2 linked regions of the Homo sapiens genome follow. The protein of the gene in region 2 interacts with the protein of the main gene of each other region in a pairwise test. Each region holds a gene or a part of one and is shown on either strand. Other genes may lie near its edges.

Region 1 (6,893 bases), on a different chromosome or scaffold from region 2:
CCAGCCAAACTTTACAACGGTCCTGAAATACACAATCAGCATTTCTTCTCCCCTTCACGCTGCTCTCGTTACCCCATTTGGAGTCCCTTCTCTACAACTTTGTTTGCAACCCCTCCTCTCCGGTGAAGCCTTCTTGATTACTCCACACTGCAAGTTTCTCCCTCCTCTGGGTTCAGTGACTGATAGCATCACTGGTACTTCCTGCGTGCCACGCATCACTGTCACCTCTTGTGAAGATAATGTCCTCCCAACTAGACCGCAAACTCCTACAGAGCCAGGTCACAGTGAAGACATCTTAATGTTCCTAGATGTGGCACACGCCTAGCACACAGCACTTAATTATTGAGATTATATTGGATTTTAGAAAAGTTTTTGTTTGTTTCTTGTTTTCAGAGGCACAGGCCATGTATCACCTCTTTCTCAGAAATCCCCTAATCGCTGACCCACATAGCACACAGGCATTGGTGCTCACCTTCCAGGGGAGCCCTCAGCCTTAGCTCCCCTATCCTAACTGGGCAACAGAAACAGCTCAAGGTCCAAGAAAGCATTAAAGAGACTTCAGGCAAGTGGCAAAATGACAGGAGTGAGAGAGCTGGGTGTGCTGTGGGGTCCAGGCCTCGCCTCTAACACAGAGCCCCGAGGGTGGCTGAGGCCTCTTGCAGTCTTCAGCACCACCGTGGAGGGAGAGCGCTGGGCTGCAGCACAGGCGTCGGTCTGGCTGGTTACCGGATCCTTCCACTGCAAGGATCCACAGTGTGAGGAAGCTTCCTTTGTGCTGTGACCCGCACTCACCTGAACACATCATTCCAATACTCCTTTACGTAGGACACTTGATGGAAAGGGATGTCTAAGATCTGGCAAACTCTGTAAGCATCTTCACAGTCTTTGTCGGCAGTACAGACCCCATGTTCATCCAGTGAGTCCCAGTTCTTCATAAACACCCCTGTCACCTGGTAACCTGCGGGCGGGAAGGTCAATTAAAGAGAATACATAAATCAACCTTCGGTAAAACGGCAGTGATTTCTGAGCTCTGAGAAGTTCCCCACACGCTGTGCTCCTGTGCCTCTGTGCCTGGCCTGCCGGGCAGTCCCTGCTTTGCCATGTGGCTTCAGGGATCCGGTTTCCATCTTGGTGCCTGAGTCCCCAAGATTAACGAGGTGGTATTTTCTCATCTTTGTGTCCCCATCTATGTATCAGCACAATACCTAGCAGGAGGGGATCAGCCAGTGTGTGTGGAATACACGAAGGAATAGTCGAAACTCAACAAAATTTTTCAAAGCACCATTCAGTTATCAAAAAAGGAAACTCTTTTCAAAAGTTATTTCTAGTTACTATCTAAGACTTAGATTCTAAGTGATCAGATATAAAGATAATTAAAATTTTCGATATTTTGTAAGAGCTGTACCACCTAGTTTATGACCTATTTTCTACCTTTTCGATTGTAACAAAATATTCACCCAAATATTGGAAAGGCCAACTTTAGCCCTACACCACCTTAGCAAACTACACAGGTGCAGACCCTGTATGAGAAAGCTGGTTCGTTTAGGTAGGCTGAATGTAATGAAAGACAGGGCAAATGACTGCTGAAGAAGGCTTCATATAGTACCCAAAACAACAGAAATTTGATGACAAAGCTTTGTCAAAACTACACCACCACACGCGAAAGACCACCCCTATCCCAGATCAACCAGACTAATGTCTACCTAACAGTCTAAAGCCCCTGGTATAGCATCTTCCATAATCAGGGCTAAACGTGCTCCAGGCTCCTCTCCTTCCATCTCCATCTGGCCAGAACCAGCCCACACTTGCAGGCCTCTGTGATTCTGCTTGCACTGCTGACTGTGCCGGGAGGGCCGCCTCCACCTCCAAGTCTCTGCTTAGTGACATCCTACTCTTCTTTCGACTCAGCTGAGCACCTCCATCTCTAGGATGCTTTCCTCCACTCTCCCTTCCTCACAACTATTTCTGCTTATGGTCCGCCTACCCTTCTCTTTGGCACTTACTGTACCTACCATAATAGCTATGGTTATTAACAATATAAACTAATAGCCACTACTGTTTTCTGCGTACCTCGTATGTGCTGAGCACGTACTCATCAGTATGTACTATGTCATCTAATCCCTCCAGTCACCCCGTGAGGCAGGTGTTAGCCGAATTTTACAGGGGACGGCTTAATTCACTTGCCCAAGGTCAGGAGCCAAAGATGGCGCAAAGCAGAGCTCCACAAACGTGACTCTGTGAATGAGGCCTCCCGCGGGGAGCCACACAGGTGAAGTTAAACAAGTGCTCATTTCAGCGCCGGGCCCGAGGAATGCTAAGCACCCGTGGGGCTCCGTTTAGATGCCGGAAGAAATGCAAATGCTCCTGGAGAAAACTTTGTCCTCCAGCGAGCGGAGAACACAGGAGACGCTGAACAAGCAGACCCGCCGCGCGGCAGTTGTCCAGTCTGCTGAGTGGGGAGGACAAGGACCTCCCACCGGGCGGCCACAGCGTGTGCAGAGGTCAGGCCCCCGGCCCGGCGATCCCAGCTCCCCTCACCAGTGTCCACGGTCTCACAGGTGAATGTGGACGCCGCAGATCCGTGAGAAACCCTTCCCTCCCCACCCCACCCCGGCCCGCCGGCTTCTCACTGTGGGTGGGCGCGCGTGGGTGGAGAGGGGCGCGGAACTGCTCCCAGGTAGTCGGAGCTGCAGTCGCGCACACCTCCGACTACACAGGTGGAGGGCGAGGAGCCTCCGAACCAAAGTCAGAGGACGGGGTATCCTCCTGCCGACCCGCGCGCAACCAGCGGCCCAGGGAGGGAGGAGACGTGCACAACGCCACGACGGACGGGGACAGGTTTCCGGGGACACATTCGCTCGGCGGGGGGCGGGAGCCTCGGACGCCTCACCTCTCCGCCTCAGCAGCAGCGCGGCCACGGCGCTGTCCACGCCGCCGGACAGGGCGCACACGACGTGCCGCAAGGCCTGCATCCGCCAGTCGCCCAACTTCGCCAGCTGCAGCTACCGCCGCTTCCGCGCCTTGCCGGAAGTCCCGCCCCGGCCGTAGGGTCCGCGCTAGTGGCCCGGCCGGAAGCTGCGGCAGCTTACCCGCGTTCCGTCCGGCCTTCCCCTGTCCCGCGGCGGGTTCCCCTGTCTCCGGCCTGCGCTCACCCCTGAGGCTCCACCGACCCGCGGGGCGCCGAGACTCTGTCGGGCCGCGAGGGGCTGGCTTTTTTTTTGAGCCGCCGCCTTGCCCTCCCCACCCGCGCCCCGGCCTCACTGCTCTTCTTCTGCGCTGTAAACCAAAAATAAAATTCTAAGCCCCCCAGCCAGCCATTGGAGGCCTCCTCTCGGCCAAGGGCGTCCTAGAGGGAACCTGAACCGCGAGTTCGGGCTCTGATGGGAAAGGCCGGGTGGGACCCGCCTCACTAGACCCTCCTCCTCCCTTTGGAATTCGGACCAGCATTAACGTCAAAACAGACTTAAGACTGTCTAGGCGGACTCTCCGTAGCAATAGGATACCGACATGACAGATGGCAGGCCCTGAAAGATATCGAAGTATTTTACAGTATTTTAATTTAATTTAATTTTTAATTAATTAAATTTTTTTGAGATGGAGTTTTGCTCTGTCGCAGGCTGGAGTGTAGTGGGCGCGACCTCGGCTCACTGCAACCTTCACCTCCAAGATTCAAGCGATTCTCCTGCCTCAGCCTCCCTAGTAGCTGCGATTACAGGCGCCCGCCACCAAGCCCAGCTAATTTTTGTATTTTTAGTAGAGACGGGGTTTCACCGTATTTGCCAGGCTGGTCTCTCACTCCTGACCTCAAGGGATCCGCCCACCTCAGCCTCCCAAAGTGGCGGGATTACAGGTGTGAGTCACTGCCCCCGGCCCAGAAAATCTTTGAATCCACCTATGACCTGGAAGCCCCACCCCACCTTCGAGTTGTCCCACCTTTCCGGAACCAATGTTACATCTTACATGTATTGATTTATGGCTTATGTCTCCCTAAAACGTACGAAACCAAAAGCTGTAGCACCACCAGTTTGAGCACGTGTTCTCAGGATCTCCTGGGACTATGACATGAATAAATATCTTCAAATCTTTTACAGTTTGACTCCAAGCATACTCAGCACTCAATCCTTAATGTCTGTGAGGTGTGTTGGACAGGGGTTTTGTGTTCTGTCCACTCCTACTCCATGCCCAGAAAAGCCCCTGGCCCAGGGCAGGTGCTTCATAACCTCGCTGAATAAAGGAAGGAGGAGAGAATGGAGGTCATCCCCCAGGGGTGATATTCAAGCTGAGTTCTTCTCTACGAGTTAGCATCTAGACAAGGTCTACCTAAAGCACAGGGAGACTCTGAACGAAAAAGATGTTCATTTGTGAATAGGGCATTGCAATGGGAATATGCATGCCACAATAAGCTATGTGGGTATTCAGGGAAGTAAAGGAAGACAAAGGTTTTTATTTTATTTATTTATTTTTTTGAGACAGTCTCACTTGGTCACTAGGCTGGAGTGCAGTGGCGTGATCTTAGCTCACTGCAACCTCCGCCTCCCGGGTTTAAGCGATTCTCCTGCCTCAGCCTCCGGAGTAGCTGGGATTACAGGCACATGCCACCACACCCAGCTAATTTTTGTATTTTTAGTAGAGACGGCATTTCACCATGTTGGCCAGGATGGTCTTGATCTCCTGACCTTGTGATCCGCCCGCCTCGGCCTCCCAAAGTGCTGGGATTACACGCGTGAGCCACAGTGCCCGGCCTAGGAAGACAAAGGTTTTTAAAGGGAAAATGAGGATCACATCATTGTTTTGAGATAATTCTTTGGCTACAAAGATCAATAACAAGGGTGACAGCACTCCAGGGTTGGACAAGCAGTTGCTGGGCAGATGTCCTTGCAACAGAAGTTTTTTGTTTTTTTTTTTTTTTTGAGGAAGGTTACGATAGCCTTTGTGTAAAGTTGTGGTTTTTGCAGTCTTTTGTGATAGTTGTTATTATTAGGCACATGTGCATGAGAACCCTCCCTTGTGGTATGAACCCAAAGTACCTGAGACAGGTTTCAATTTAGAAAGTTTATTTTGCCAAGGTTAAGGACATGCCAGTGACACAGCCTCAGGATGATGTCCTGAGGATATGTGCCCAAGGTGGTCGAGGCACAGCTTGCTTTGATACATATTAGGGAGACACAGGACATCAATTAATACGTGTAAGATGTACACTGGTTCTGTCTGGAAAGGCGCAACAACTGGGGGTGGTGGGCAGCTCGCAGGTCATAGGTAGATAAGAGATAAACTGTTGCATTCCTTTGGGTCTTTGATCAGCCTTTCACTGAATACACAATCTCCATGTGAGAGGCAGGTAGAGGAACAGTCACTGATGCCTTAGTCTGGCTCAGTGAATCTGCATTTTCACATAAACAATAGGGCAGAGGAAGCAATCAGACATGCATTTGTCTCAGGTGAGCAGAGGACTGATGGTGAGTTGTCCATTGTCTGGCATCTGTGAAGATAAGCTATCAATTTACATTGCCAGGGTGAAATTCAACAGAACTATTTTAGGGTAAAGATCTCGAGGTCCACGAGGAATTTCCAAGAAGAAAAGCAGGAACTACCAACAGGAGAGCCCTGGGGACTGGTGCCAGGAGGAGCTGCAAGACAGGAGGGAGGTCACAGGGCCTGTGGGGAAAAGGATGACCACTTTTTCAGAATAAAGGATCAGGAAAATACCCAACAGGAGGGCAATTTCATCTTGCATTTCCCGGAAGAGATAAGGAAATCCAGTATCTGGGCAGCTGAGTTTGTGCAGATTTAGAGGTACACGTTTAGGCTGTGTCTAAACTTGAGTCTGGGTCTGGGGGCAGGCCCTCCTTGGGTGTGGCAGGCTGATCTAAGGTTATGGCAGGTTAAGTCCCAGTTGCAGCCAACCCGCAAAATGGCTGAGATCCATGCTCACATATTTTCTGCTACTTTTTGGTTAACTATATGGTATTTTAGGTACTCCGTAGCTCCAAGAGGCCCCTGTGTATCACCCAGGTCCACTACAGGCTAGTTATGGCCAGGATGACGACATCCCAGGTGCCGCCTGCCAACAGCAATGTCAGAGACGTGGATTTCAGAGATGTAAAATGGGAAGACATTTGCTCCACAAAATTAATGAAATGTGGTAAAAAATCACATGAAGTTGGACGTCTTGGACCTGGGAGGGTGGCCCTCCAGTGGCAGCTGAGGTGTTCGGTGCCATCCTATGGAGAAAGGGGCTGGCCCTCCTGGGGCCACGGAGCCCTTCAGTCTCCAACTAACTGTGCATCTTCCCACCCGGAGCCCTCTGAGGGGTGAACCAAGGGCCTGTGTACCAGGAGAGGGAGTGGGGGAGCTCAGACTGGGTGGCTTCGGCAGGAAGAGCCCAGTGGAGAAACCCAGACAGAAAGGAATGGGCCTGGAGCCTCAGGACAGGAGCAGCTCTGCTCTGTCCAGCTCCTGCTCCTGGGCCCTCTTCCTGTCTGTCTGTAGAGAGTTAAAGTCAGATCACTCTGTCTGGCCTGGGTACCAAGGAGAGCCTGGCTGCACTGAAGCCGCACCGGGGAGGGGAAGGGCACAGGGGGGAGGAGCCCCAGCAGCGGGATTGGGGCCACAGGCCAAAGGCTGGGCTCACCCCCAGGGCCTGAATGGAGACAACTGAGGCACAGCTTGGTTACAGATGAGCTGGGAGCTGAACATCTCCCTCCTCTACCCAGTGGGAAGCCCTAAGAGGGAAGGGGTACCTGAGCGCTGCACCCCGCTGCACCCAGCAGAAAACAGCCTGACCCATAGCAGAGCCTCAGTAAATATTTGCTGCATGGTTTAATCCAATTTCAGATTTCCTTTTCTACCCCTGGGAAATGAGGGCCAGACCAGAGGTTCCCTGAGGACCCTCC
Region 2 (4,935 bases):
ATCTCAAAAAAAAATACAATAAAATAAAGATAAAATGCAAATAATCATAACAGATACATAGACATTGCTATAGATCCTACTTATATTGAAAAGAAATACAAAGATATTGTAACAATTTTATGCCAATACATATATATTCAGAGGAAATTGACACATTCATTGAAAAATATAACTCACTGAAACCGAACAAAAGACAGAAAACATGAATAGGTTTAGATCATGAGGAAATTAAATCTGAAATTAAAATCATTTCCCAACAGAAAACACCATTCCAAGATGGCTTCACTGGTGAATTTATCTAACATTAAAGTATAATTTTACACAAATTATTTTAGATAATAAGGAGCATGAGAGCACATCACAGCTCATTTTAATGAGGCTTACATAACATTGACCCCAAACCATAGCAAGTGCATTAAGGAGGGGAAAAAAAGCTAGTATCTCTCATGAACATAGGTGCAAACGTTCTAAACAAACTATTAACAAGTCCACTCCAATAATACATACACAAGATAAAATGTGACTAAATGGAGTTTATTCCATCAAAGCAAGGTTGATTTAATTTTTAAAAATCGATATGTGTTATGTATAATATCACATTATCTCATTAAAAAGCATGTATCTAGCGGCATAACTGTGTGTATTAAGACCTAAAATATAGTATCCTGATACTTTACTACACACTTTAAAGGTGTTAACTTATTTCATCATCCCCACAATTTTCATGAAATAAGAATGATTATTTTCTCTCAGCTGCAAATACATGGCTGAAACACAAAGTAACTGGCTCTAGATCATGTAGCAATTAAGTGACAGAGCTGTGAATCCAGTTTAGATAGGCCTGACTGGAGCACTTCATTATATTGTCTTTCAGGAGTCTATACCTGATCTGGTGGTCTCTGTATTGGGGTTGCTAACCAGTGCAATAAGGTAAGAAAAAAGGTAAAGCAATTGGGAAGAAGCAAGTATTGCCATATTTTCAGCTTACATGACTATGCATATACAAAATCCAGAGGAATCTACAAATTACTAGATTTAAGAAATAAACTTATTGAGTTTACTAAACATCGTAAGACTACACACAAAACTTAACTGTATTTCTGTGTACAACAATAGAAAAGAAAAAATATTTAAAATATATTATTAAAATCACTAAAACCACCAAAACAAGATATACAAGGTTTTTAAACTAAAAATGTCAAAACATAGCAATTAAGTTAAAGAAATTCTAGTTACATGAAGCGATACATGATGAACATTGATTAGAGATTCAGTAGTAAGTTGCCAGTTCTGCATAAGTTGATTGATAGACTCAATGTGGTCCCAGTAGAAACCTCATCAGGATTTTGTAGAAATTGAGAAGCTGTTTCTAATATTTATATGGAAATCTTGACTTTAAGAAGAACAAAGCTGGACTATAGTTACAACTATAAATGTACAATAATTAAGATAGTGTACTGTTTGACACAAGCATCAACAAATAGACTAGAATAGACAGCCCAGAAACAGACACACACACATACAGTTACCTAACTTACAAAAATGCACCACCCTAGTTCAGTGGAGGAAAAATGGTCTTTCCTACATAGTGCTGTCTCAAGTGGATATCTATTCTACCAGGAATAGATAGAATGTTTATTAATAAAACTATTAGAAAAAAATGGAAAAATATCTTCATGATTTCAAAATCATGAAAAATCTCTTCATGGTTTCAAAATCATGAAAAATATCTTATGATTTTGGGATGGGCAAAAATTTCTTAAACATGACACAAAAAGCACTAATTTTGAAAGAAAATATGAATAAATAAGACTTTCTCAAAATTAGGAAATTTTGTTCATCAAAATTCAACATTAGGAGCAAGTCAAAAACTAGCAAAATATTTGTAATACACATTAAAAAGGACATATTCAGAATGTAAAAATAACTTAAAAATCAGTAAGAAAAATATTGGCTAACTAATTTAAACAAAATACAAAAATGTGAACGGGTACTTCACAAAAGAAGATACCCAAGTGCCCAATAAGCATATAAAAAAGTGTTCAACCTTATTACATGTTGGGGAAATACAGATTAAAACCATGGGGAAATATCACTTTACATCCACAGGAATAATGAAAATCAAGAGAACTGAAAACATTGACTTTTTACAAGCACATAGAGCATCTAGGACTGCCACACATTGCCGGTAGGAGCATAAATTCATACAATCACTTAGGAAAACTGGTAATATCTACTAAAGCTGAATACATGCTTTCCTCATCCTCTACCAGTTCCACTCCTGGATAGGTAGTGAAATTAGTGCACCATGTCCACCAAAAGACAAGTCCAGGAATGTTCGTGGGTTCTCTTCCTCATGGCCAAAAATTGGAAGCCACTTAAGTGCCTATTAACAATAGAATGGATGAACTGAGGAATATTAATATAAGGGAACCCTACATGGCAATGAAAAGGATGAAACTTTTGTACACATGACATGAATGAATCTCACAGACTTAATTCTGAGTAAACAAGACATACAACATTACACACAATATGATTCCAACTATACAATGTTTATAAACAGACGAAATTACTGTGCAGTCATGGAGGTCAGAATAGTATTTTCCTAGGAGTTAGTACTAGGAGGAGTTATAACGGGGCTTCTAGGGAGTCAAAAATGTCCCATATCTTAATCTAGAAAGTGAGTATATAGGTATGTATGTGTGTGAGAATTTGTGAAGCTGTTTGCTTGAGATTTGTTATTTATGTTCTTTACATGGTTTAATATCTCATTAGAAAGAAAACAGAGTTCATAGAGAAAGTTACAAAATAGATTTTCTTAATACCTGAAACTTGGTAAAAAGCTGTGGTATTAAACTGTGGTGATGTCATTAGGGGAGCCCTCTACCCAAACAGAAAGGAAGGCTCAACAGAGCACAGGTGTTTGTTGTAAATGGAAAAATAAATCCGTCTTATTTTCATACTGCAGCAAGTTAACACTATCGAAAGCATTACAGATTAATTAAACTAGATAATTAATGTAGGATGCAAAAGATAGGGCCTCATAGTATATATTAAAAATATTATATAATTAGCATGACTACTACTGCTGCTGCTAACTACTACTACTACTATTATTGCTTTGTTGGTGCTGTTAGTGATCATTTTTAGTGATTGCCCACAAAAGGAACAATACTGGATATGAGGAAATTGATATAATTTATCTTTTCAAGCATACTGTGGGCCTGTGGGTTGCAGTAAAAAGACAAGGAGGGCCTGAGTGATATGACCCTTCAGATAGGGAACTCACAGACGGCCAGATGGGAGGTGGAGCAGGGGACGTCATTCCACTGGCCATTTTTCAGTAGCAATACACAATCTTCATCAGAACCAGCATTGTTGGGTTCACCCTCGTTCCAGTTTGTGTAGGTCAGTCTATTTCCTGTCAGATCCACAAACTGCCCTTCTGTCTTCTCATCAGTGATGCCCAGGAAGGCTTCCTCCTTGATGAGATTCTGAATGGCTCCATTCTCTGCAGCATTCCTGGGGGTGGCCACAGAGGCCTGGAACTTGACACACAAGGCCTTCACTTTTTCAAAGGTCATTATTTCACCATTGGTCAGGAAGAACTTGTTCCCAACTTGTTTGCCCAGAGAGAAGGTGAGCCCTAAAATGTGAAAAAGTGGGTGAAACTGACTCATCCTTAAGCCCAACTCAAGGTATTTCTCAAGAAAAAGTCTTCTAGAGTACAGTTGCCGGATAAAATATAGTATGTCCAGTTAAATTTGAATTTCAGACAAACAATGAATATTTTAGTATATCTCCCATATAATTTTTCAGACACACTTATACTAAAAATGTTTTTCAGCTGAAATCCAATTTAACTGGTGCTTTGTCTTTTTATTTGTTAAATATGGCAACCCAAATGTGAACAGACAGACTGGTACAAAGGCCTCTCTGTGCTTTCAGATCAGAATTCTAAAAGACATATAATTTGGACTTCTGAATTCTAAATTGTTAACTTGAGACCAAACAAAAAATGTCTGAAAATATTTGCCCCAGGCAGGTTAGACCCCACGGCCAGGTCTCAATACCAGTGCAACAAAGGGATATAAGTCCCATTTTCAGTGAGCAATATCAGACGGTAAAGGATTAGGGTCTCTCGAGTCAGACTGACTTCCATCTATAAACCACCCCTGCCATTTATTAGCTCTGTGCATTTGAACAAGTAATTTAACTTCCCTTTGCCTCCATTTCTACCAAAATGTTGTGAGAATTTCATGAGGTAAGAATATGAGAAATGCCTAGCAGGGTACAGAAAATTATATGCATTCAACAAATATTTGTTGCATTCTATTTTTCCCAAACTTCAAGCTGCCTGGAGAGTAAGAGAAAAAGCTTACACTTTTTGATACGTGCCATTTCTGTTTGCAGAGCTTTTCTTTCTGAGGCAGCCAGGCTACTATCACCATCTAGAAAATTAGAACAAAGTAAAGAAGCATTGTTGAGAAGGAGCCTCAGAACTGTGCATATACAAGGGAGTGGAGTATCTTTTTCAAACTGAAAAAAAAAGCTTATTTTACATTGATGTTTACACTTTGAAGGAAAATAAAAAATACTGAAAAGCCCAAAGAATGAAAAATCGCTATTTCCATCCAACCCCAAATGTCCCTCTTTGTCTGTTTACTGTATCCCAAAGTACGCATACATATCACATGCACACATATACTCCCTGATTACCTAGCAATCCATATGCCAGGTTCTTCACAGATTTTTTTTTCAAATAAATTGTTCTATCAAAACTAAAAAGAAATCTCTTGAGGCGTTACTCTATTATGACCTGGTGAAGAGTGACGAAAAAGATTGCAGAGTTTTTGTCTTTGGAGAGGTTTTGCTTTTGATGTCTTTTGTTTTGTTTTTGTTTTTTCCAGGTTTGTTCTGTTAGTCAGGAAA

What was found.
Region 1: the proteins of MBL2 (region 2) and TRMU interact in binary tests that used the Homo sapiens proteins (3 or more experiments, as listed by UniProt).

The regions. Positions count from the first base shown.
Region 1 is NC_000022.11:46,331,844-46,338,736, reverse strand, and holds the start of TRMU (mitochondrial tRNA-specific 2-thiouridylase 1), read right to left. Parts: upstream 3,024-6,893; 5' UTR 2,973-3,023; coding exon 2,891-2,972; intron 959-2,890; coding exon 793-958; intron 1-792. UniProt on the Homo sapiens protein: Catalyzes the 2-thiolation of uridine at the wobble position (U34) of mitochondrial tRNA(Lys), tRNA(Glu) and tRNA(Gln).
Region 2 is NC_000010.11:52,764,862-52,769,796, forward strand, and holds the end of MBL2 (mannose-binding protein C precursor), read right to left. Parts: intron 4,455-4,935; coding exon 4,386-4,454; intron 3,650-4,385; coding exon 3,276-3,649; 3' UTR 519-3,275; downstream 1-518. UniProt on the Homo sapiens protein: Calcium-dependent lectin involved in innate immune defense. Binds mannose, fucose and N-acetylglucosamine on different microorganisms and activates the lectin complement pathway.